2 separate regions of the Homo sapiens genome follow, and region 2 is linked to region 1. The links come from fine-mapping of genetic effects on gene expression. Tissue or cell type: lung. Region 1 holds a variant in brackets; the other region holds the start of a gene. All regions are shown on one strand. Distances are between the middles of the regions.

Region 1 (4,000 bases):
CGCGTGGGTCGAGCCGTTGGGGAGGGCTCCGGGCCGCGCAGGAACGGGGCGGGGTCCACACCGCGGGAACAGCGGGCGCGGCGGCGGGGGGCGCATGGGGCGAGCGCGCGGAGGCTGCAGAGTCGGGGGTCTAGTGCCGTCGCCGTAGAGACCGTTGCCGGGAAACCGCCTCGGAAGGCTGGCGGGGATGGAAGCCCCTCTCGTGCGCCGCTGCGACCCCCAGCCCCGGGTCTGCGCAAGCGCAGGGCTCGCCCAGCCCAGCCCTCGGCCTCTGCAGGAGACCCTCGGACCCCTCCTCACTGCGCCGACGCGGAGGCTGCGCCAGCTGGGGCGGCGGGGGCGGCTGCGGGGGCATCCTGCGGAGGCTCGGCCCTGCGCAGGGTGGGGGCCTGGGCCACGCCCTGCGCTTCTTTGGGCCTCAGTTTCCCCTTCTGGGCGCGAGCGTATGGCCTGCTTTGACGTTCGCCGCCGCTGCTGTTCGTATCCGTCCGCTCCCGACCCCAGCGCTTCTCCAGCCTCCGGAATCGTCTGAATTTCGCGGCTGTGACATCCCTCATTGGAGGGGAAACTGAGGCTGGGGGGTGCAGCGGGGAGCCCAAGGTCACGCTTCGAGGCCGGAGCCTCGTTGCGGAGCTAAGGCGCCCGCAAGAGAACGCGGGGCGGGGGCCGGGGAGCTGTCCGCGGTGCTGACGGAGGCGCACGTCTGCCGACTCGCCGCCGGGGAAACTGAGGCCCATAGCGGCGGTCAGGCTTCAGGGCGCGGCCTGGACCGGCCTACCCCACCCTCCCCCACCTCCGGTGGCCTCCTCACCGGTCAGGGCTCTGCCCGGCCACCCAGCCGGCGGCGGGCCGTCTCTATCCTCCCGCGATGACCTGGTGCCTTCTCTGTCCCCACCCAGCTCCCGATGGGGGCCGCCCCTGTTTCTGCCTCTAGCCCCTGGCACAGAGGAGGCATCAAGGGGGCGGGGACAGCTCGAGGTCAGACTCAGAAGGCTCAAAGACACTCCAAGAGTGAGCCGTGTGCCAGGCTGCGGACTTGCGGGGAGGTGTCACAGGACAGGGGTGGGGGAGTGAGCATTTCATGGAACTTCCCCTTTAGCCCAGCAGCAGTAGGGGGCGTGGAGGACCCCAGGGAGGAGCCTAGGTCGGGGTCTTGGGCTAGGCCCTGCGTTCTGCAGTGGGAGAAGGGGGAGACCTCTCTCAGTCTCCTGAAGTCCTAGGGGGCTGTGGGGGGTTCTTGAGGCTCTGAAATGTCTGGTGATGTCTGAGTGTGGCTGTGGTTCAAGGATTTACAGGGTCGAGGATTTTAGTGTGTGGGGGGGGATTGTTCAGGGACATAATGTTTTGTAGATTTGGGGCCAAGGGCATCTTGTCTTGGGGTCTCAGCCCCCATGTACCCTCAGCCCTCCAGGCCCTGGCCACCCCCAGAGGGATAAGAAGGGAGGTTCAGTGTCACTCCGGAGGCCTGGCTGGCACAGGTGAACTCAGGCAACACGTTCCCTGGCCCAGGCCTCAGTTTCCCCATGTATACAAGGACAGGACTGACCTTGGATCCCCCAAACCCCTGCCTGATGGGGGCCTGGGGAGCTGAGACATCTGAAACTACACAGGGAGGTGGGACTTAGTTCCTCTTTGGGGGAGGCAGGGATCATCCAACCCACCCTTCAGTAAACAAGACTGGAAACCGAGGCCAGAGAGAGACATGCCCAGGGGGACACAGGGACAACAAGGCTGAGCTGAAGCCAGGGCCCTGGGCTCTGCATCCCCAACCCCATTTCAGCCTCGCCCAGCTCTGCCCCGGCTTGACCTGTCAAACCCCACCACGCGCCCTACCCCATGGCTCCACCAGACACCCCCTGTGTCCCAAGCATGCATTGATCTTCCCTCAGCCTGGAACGCCTCTCCTCCTGATCACTGCTGTTCACTTCTCAGGGCAGCCTTCCAGCCTCCAGAAAAAAATCCCCTTCGAGGCGGGCGGATCATGAGGTCAGGAGTTTGAGACCAGCCCGACCAACACGGTGAAACCCCCTCTCTATTAAAAATACAAAAATTAGCTGGCAAGGTGGTACATGCCTGTAATCCCAGTTACTGAGGAGTCTGAGGCAGGAGAATCACTTGAACCCAGGAGGCGGAGGTTGCGGTGAGCCGAGATGGCGCCACTGCACTGCAGCCTGGGGGACAGAGCAAGACCCCATCTAAAAAAAAAAAAAAAAAAAGGCCGGGCGTGGTGGTTCACGCCTGTAATCCCAGCACTTTGGGAGGCCGAGGCGGGTGGATCACGAGGTCAGGAGATCGAGACCATCCTGGCTAACGTGAAATCCCGTCTCTACTAAAAAATACAAAAAATTAGCCTGGGCGTGGTGGCGGGCGCCTGTAGTCCCAGCTACTCGGGAGGCTGAGGCAGGAGAATGGCGTGAACCTGGGAGGCGGAGCTTGCAGTGAGCCGAGA[A/T]CGTGCCACTGCACTCCAGCCTGGGCTACAGAGCAAGACTCCGTCTCAAAAAAAAAAAAAAGAAAAAAAAGAAAAAGAAAAAAGAAAAGATCCCCTGTGTCTGCCCACTGCATTGCCTCCCCAGACCCAACCAGTGGGGACAGCTGCGTCCAGCTCTGGGGGCTCCCAGACAGCCAGGCCGAAGGGCTCTCAGCCCCTGGCAGTGCTGGCCCGGGACAAGGCCCTCGGGTCTTCAGCTCAAGGCCCAACAGGAAACAGCACGGGTCCTCCCTTGCCTTTGTCTACGGGGCCTTGAATACTCGGACCTTCCCACCCTCTCCTATCATTCCCTGCACCAGCCCTTGCAGAATCTTCCGCCTCCTCTCCATTTTACAGAGGAGGAAACCGAGGGTTGAGCGGCGAATGATTTGCCCTGCCTGCCCAGCACGGAAAAAAATCACTCTTCTGGCCCCAGTCGCCTCCCTTTCTGTGCTGTGAGTCTGTGTCCAGAGCAGGAAGGGCTGCTCCGAGCTGCAGGGACGGGCTCTGTGTGTTAAACCTTCAAATGGCTTCCAGGGACTCATGGAGCATCCAGGACACCTGGAGATGGCGACTCCTGGGACCCCTGGCCCTTCCCTCCTCTGGCCTTCGGTCCGTGAGGGTGAATTAAGTGTGCCACCCACCAGGGGCAGAGACACATGGAGACAGAGATTGAGAGACAGAGAACAGAGGGGGAGACAGAAAGAGAGAGGGACATGAAGAGCAACGGAGTTACAGGAGGATCTGACGCTCCGTTGGGGAGACAGGGAGAAATGTGGGGAGATGCAGCGTCCCAGGTGCTCCCCAGTGGCCCTGCCCCTCCTCCCCTCTCCCCTCCCCACCAGGCAGGACCCTCAGGGAGCTCCAGCCTGGACCCGAACCCTGTCCCACCCTGACGCACCTGCACCAGGCCAGGCTGGACCTGTGGGGTGGGTGCAGGCCTGGCCCCAGCCCGGCCACTGCCCTGGAAACCCCTCCCCCGCCAAGATGCTGATGTAACATCCAGGATTTGATGTTTTACTCTCCAATTCTGCAAATCCAGACGCAGGAGGTTTTAAGAGGCCGTTGCACCCTGCAATAAAGTGCGGGACACAGGAATCTTGGTCCTCGGGGCACCCCCTTCCCTCGGGGGGGTTTCGCCCCCCGCACTCACGGCCCCTGAGCCCGCGCGGAGGCCCGACGCCCCGCGGCCGACGCCGGTCCCCGCCCCGGGCCGCCATTGGCTGTTGCCATGGCACCAGCCCGTCTTCCCGCGCCCTCATTGGCTGTCTCACCCGCATCCCTCATCCCGCATCCTCCCCCGCTCGCGGTGGTCTCGCCCAGCGCTAGGAGCGGCAGCGCCGCCTGCCCAGGCCCGGACCGGGCTTTGTCCGCCCCGGAGCCCCTGCCCGCGCCGCGGAGACCCCGGAGCCCGCGCGCTCCGAGGCCACCCCGGGCCGGGATTTCCGGTGGGGCCCGCGGAGCCGCGCAGAGGGAGGAGGCCCCAGACCCAGGCGCCCCGCCAGCCCAGCTGCACGTAAGCGGGTGTGTGTC
Region 2 (4,190 bases), 93 kb before region 1:
ACTGCAACCTCCGCCTCCTGGGTTCAAGAGATTTTCTTGCCTCAGCCTCCCAAATAGCTGGGATTACAGGTGCACACTACCACGCTCAGCCAATTTTTGTATTTTTAGTAGCGATGGGGGTTTCTCTATATTGGCCAGGCTGGTCTCGAACTCCTGACCTCAGGCGATATGTCTGCCTTGACCTCCCAAAGTGCTGGGATTACAGGCCTGAGCCACCGCCAGCTCAGATTTAACGTGAGAGGATATCAGAGACATAGTTCTTGCCAACCACCCACAGACCACCACCCCCATTTTATAGACAAACTGAGACGGCTGAGCAAGGTGGATCCTACCTGTGATCCCAGCACTTTGGGGAGCCGAGGTGGGAGGATCACTTGAGCCCAAAAGGTCGAAACCAGCCTGGCCAGCATAGCAAGACCCTCTCTCTACAAAAAATAAAAATCTTAGCCAGCCATGGTGGTGCGCACTGTGGTCCCAGCTACTCCGGAGGCTAAGGTGGAAGGATCATTTGAGCCTGGGAGGTTGAGGCTGCAGTGAGCTATGACTGGGCCGCTGCACTCCAGCCTGGGCCACAGAGCCAAACTTCGACTCAAAAATGTAAATAAAAATAAAAAACAAGTGAAAGGTGAACATTCTCAACTTGATAAAGGAAAAAAAATCAGTCGCTGAGGTTGCTGGGATCGACCGAAGACACAAACCTTCTATTCCCGCAAATGTGAGAAGGAAAAAGAAGTTAGAGCCGGCTTTGCTGTCGCCCCTTCCCCTTGAAGAGTCGGGGCCAGTGCGTGACGAATGCTGCTGTAAGTCTTTTAATTTTTTCCTTTTTTGAGACGAAGTCCCACTCTGTTGCCCAGGCTGGAGTGCAGTGGCGCGATCTCCCCTTACTGCAAGTTCCGCCTCCCGGGTTCAAGCGATTCTCCTGCCTCAGCCTCCTGAATAGTTGGGATTACAGGCATCGCCACCACGCCCGGCTAATTTTTCTATTTGTAGTAAAGACGGGGTTTCACCATGTTGGCAATGCTGGTCTCGATCTCCTGACCTCATGTGATCTGCCCGCCTCGGCCTCCTGCTGGGATTACAGGAGTGAGCCTGTATCTTTTTTATAGAGATGGGGTCTCGCCATGTTGCCCAGGCTGGTCTCCAATCCTTGGGCTTAAAGGATCTGCCAATTCGGCCTCCTTTGCTTTTAAAGAACTGTGGGGGCTGGCGAGGTGGCTCAGGCCTGTAATCCCAATACTTTGGGAGGCCGAGGCAGGCCGATCACCTGAGGTCAGGAGCTTGAGAGCAGCCTGATCAACATTTAGTATTCTCTACTAAAAATACAAAAATTAGCCGGGTGGGGTGGCGCGCACCTGTAATCCCAGCAGGAGGAGGCTGCAGTGAGCTGAGCTCGCGCCACTGCACTCCAGCCTGGGTGACAGAGCGAGACTCCGTCTGAAAAAAAATCAAAAACCGCTCAGGGAAAGGCCTGACACTGATGGAGCGACCGCTCCGGGGCTCCCGCCACCCGCGGCTGTTTCCGGTGCCCCCCGGGGTCTTGGGACCCTCCCAAGGTGGGTCCTGCTCTAGTTCAGAAGCTTATGACGCCTTTGCGGGGATGCCTGGCTTTGGGATCGGTTGGGATCTGCTGGAATTGGGTCCGTGGCGCGCAGCTCCCGGGCTGGGAGGTGCCGTAGGACCTGGAAGATTCTCGAAAGTTCTGGAAGGTTCTCTCAGGGATCGCCGCGGGCGGGGGAGCCTGTTTTCCCACCGAGACCCGCGAGGGCGGTGTCCGGGGTCTGACTGCAGGACAAAGGGCCGGGAGCGCGGGAGGGCGGCGCCCGGGAGCGGCCACACATGCCCCGCCAACCGGTCTCCTCAGGCAGCACTCCCGGGAAAAAGGGGTAGACGCGCGGCGGAAGGGGCGGGGCCGGCGCGCGGCCGTGGACGCCGGAGAGGGCGAGGCCGGCGCTCCTTGGGAGCGCGCGCGTCCCATTGGGCAGCGGGCGGAAGGGGGCGGAGCTTGGCGCCGCCGCGAGGCAAGCCCCGCCCCCGGCCCCGCGGGGAGCGGCGGCGGCGGCGGCGGCGGCGGTGGCGGAGGCGGTGAGCGCGGGCGGCGCGGACGGCAGCGGTTGGCGGGCGGGTCCTCCGCTGTTGCGGCCGCTGCGGCCTCCTTGCCCGGGCTTGGGGCGCCGCGCTGGGGAAAGCCGGGGGCCCGGTGAGCCCGCGGGATGCGTCCCCTCGGTTCCGCCGGGCGGGGCTGAGGCGAGGAGGCCGGGCCTGGGGGGAGGGGGGGCCCCGGCCTAGAGACTCCTCCGGGAGCGCCCGGTCCCTACCGCCGTGGGTCCCCCACTCTGCCCGGACCCCCTTTTCCGCCCCTGGCGCCGTGGGCCCCTCACTTTGCCTGGACTCCTTTTCCCGTCCCTGCCGCCCGGACCCCATCTCTTGCTTGGACCCGCTCCCCCATCCTTGCTGCCTGGACCCCTATCTCCTTCCCTGGATCCCCCTCACGTCTGCCGTGAACCCCATCTCTTGCCTGGACCCCCATCTGCTTCCCTGGATTCCCCACCCCCAACCGTGAAATCCCCCATCCCTGCCACCTGGACCCTCCGCTCCACCTCCTCCGTGAGCCCTCGTTCTTGCTCCCTGAGCCCCCCCGCTTCTGCTGTGACCCCCTTCTCTGTTGCCTGAATCCCCCGTTCCTGCAAGCCGCAACCCTTCCTCCGCCATGAAATCTTGTCCCTGCTGCCTGGACCCCTACTTCTGCTGCTGCTGTGATCCCCTCTCTTGCTGGAAACGCCACCCCTACCTCTGCTGGGAACCTCCTCTTCCCTGCTGCGGGGACGCCCCCCTCCGTTGTTGCTAAATTCCACCCCCACCCCCAAACCTCCTTTTCATTTCTGTCAACAGCCAAGCCAGTCCTTCCCATTGATGCTGTGAACGGTCTGCAGCTGTCCCCGTTCTTTCAGGGACATGGCAGCCAAAAGAGCAGTCGTTTTTCCGCTCTTATTTTTGTGTGTGTGCTGTGGTCAACTGTTAACTCCCCAAATTGGGGAGGGTTGTGAGCTTTGATTGTGTAAAATGCCTCTCCTGCCGAGGTCGGAGGCAGGTCTTCCGCACGGAGATGATTTATTCAGGAGCCTTTTAAAACTGATCTAGATAGAACCTTTGGGAGGGACTGTGCTGTATTTTATTTATGAAAAAATGCAGGCGCCTCCCTGGATACCGAGCCCCGTCGTTTCTGTTTGTCAGTCTGCTTTTTGGCATTGAGCATCTCAATGCAAGATTGTGGAATTAAACCATCTACTTGAGGCTAAGTCGAGCTAACCTTTGCCCCTGAGGGCTGTGTCTGCGTTAACATCGCCAGCAAACAGTTGTATAAACCACCGTGCAAATTTCGTTCCAGGACACATTGGCGTGAGACCTGGGAGTACGTTGTGCCAAATCATTGCCACTTGCCACATGAGTGTAAATGATGGCGGATGCCAAGTATGTCCTCTGCCGATGGGAAAAGCGATTATGGCCTGCGAAGGTGACAGCCATTATTCTGTAACTTCAGGACTTAGAAATGACTTTCGGGTGACAAGTAAAATCTTGATCAGGAGATACCTAGGATTTGCTTCAGTGAAATAATTGAGCCAGAACACGGTTGGCACTGATTCTCGTTCCCCATTTAATGGGGTTTTGGTCTAGTGCTTCCAAGGTTACACTTCCAGAAATGTCTTTTTTTTTTCACACTAAAAAAAAAAAAAGAATCAGCTGTAAAAAGGCATGTAAGGCTGTAACTCAAGGAAAGATCTGGCAAGCAGCCCTGTGATAGTAAATTATGGTCGTGTTCAGGGAATGCTTTCCAGCAATTCAGTAGACAGTGCTCAGCTGCAATGCAAAAGCCCAGGTCCTTGTCTTTGTCTGCCACTGGCCTCTCATGCCTCAGTTTCCCCATCTGTGAAACAATGGGGATTGGACCAAATATCTGAAATCCCATGGTTATAGGCCTTCAGGATTACCTGCTGCATTTGTGCTAAAGTTTGCCACTGTTTCTCACTGTCAGCTGTTGTAATAACAAGGATTTTCTTTTGTTTTAAATGTAGGTTTTGGCCCGAACCGCGACTTCAACAAAAAATAAGAGAAGAAAGGAATATTTTCTAGCTGTGCAAATCCTCTCTCTAGAGGAAAAGTTAAGTGTTGTGTTGTTTTAATACTGTTTTTTC

What was found. PIP is the estimated chance that this variant, and not a neighbour inherited with it, causes the effect.
Region 2: it holds the start of PWWP3A, and the variant in region 1 is fine-mapped to the expression of PWWP3A in lung (TOPMed, PIP 0.91).

What each region holds. Positions count from the first base shown.
Region 1 is chr19:1,446,348-1,450,347 of GRCh38, forward strand. It overlaps APC2 (APC regulator of Wnt signaling pathway 2), which reads left to right and starts at 3,774. Exons shown (of 15, transcript NM_005883.3): 1 at 3,774-3,991. RefSeq lists silencers at 583-877, 3,621-3,820. The variant A/T (reference allele first, on the strand shown) is at 2,450.
Region 2 is chr19:1,352,939-1,357,128 of GRCh38, forward strand. It overlaps PWWP3A (PWWP domain containing 3A, DNA repair factor), which reads left to right and starts at 2,021. Exons shown (of 14, transcript NM_001369789.1): 1 at 2,021-2,197; 2 at 3,386-3,511; 3 at 4,071-4,156. The coding sequence starts at 3,455. RefSeq lists silencers at 1,680-1,779, 1,765-1,925, 1,810-2,099, 2,160-2,229 and an enhancer at 1,822-2,707.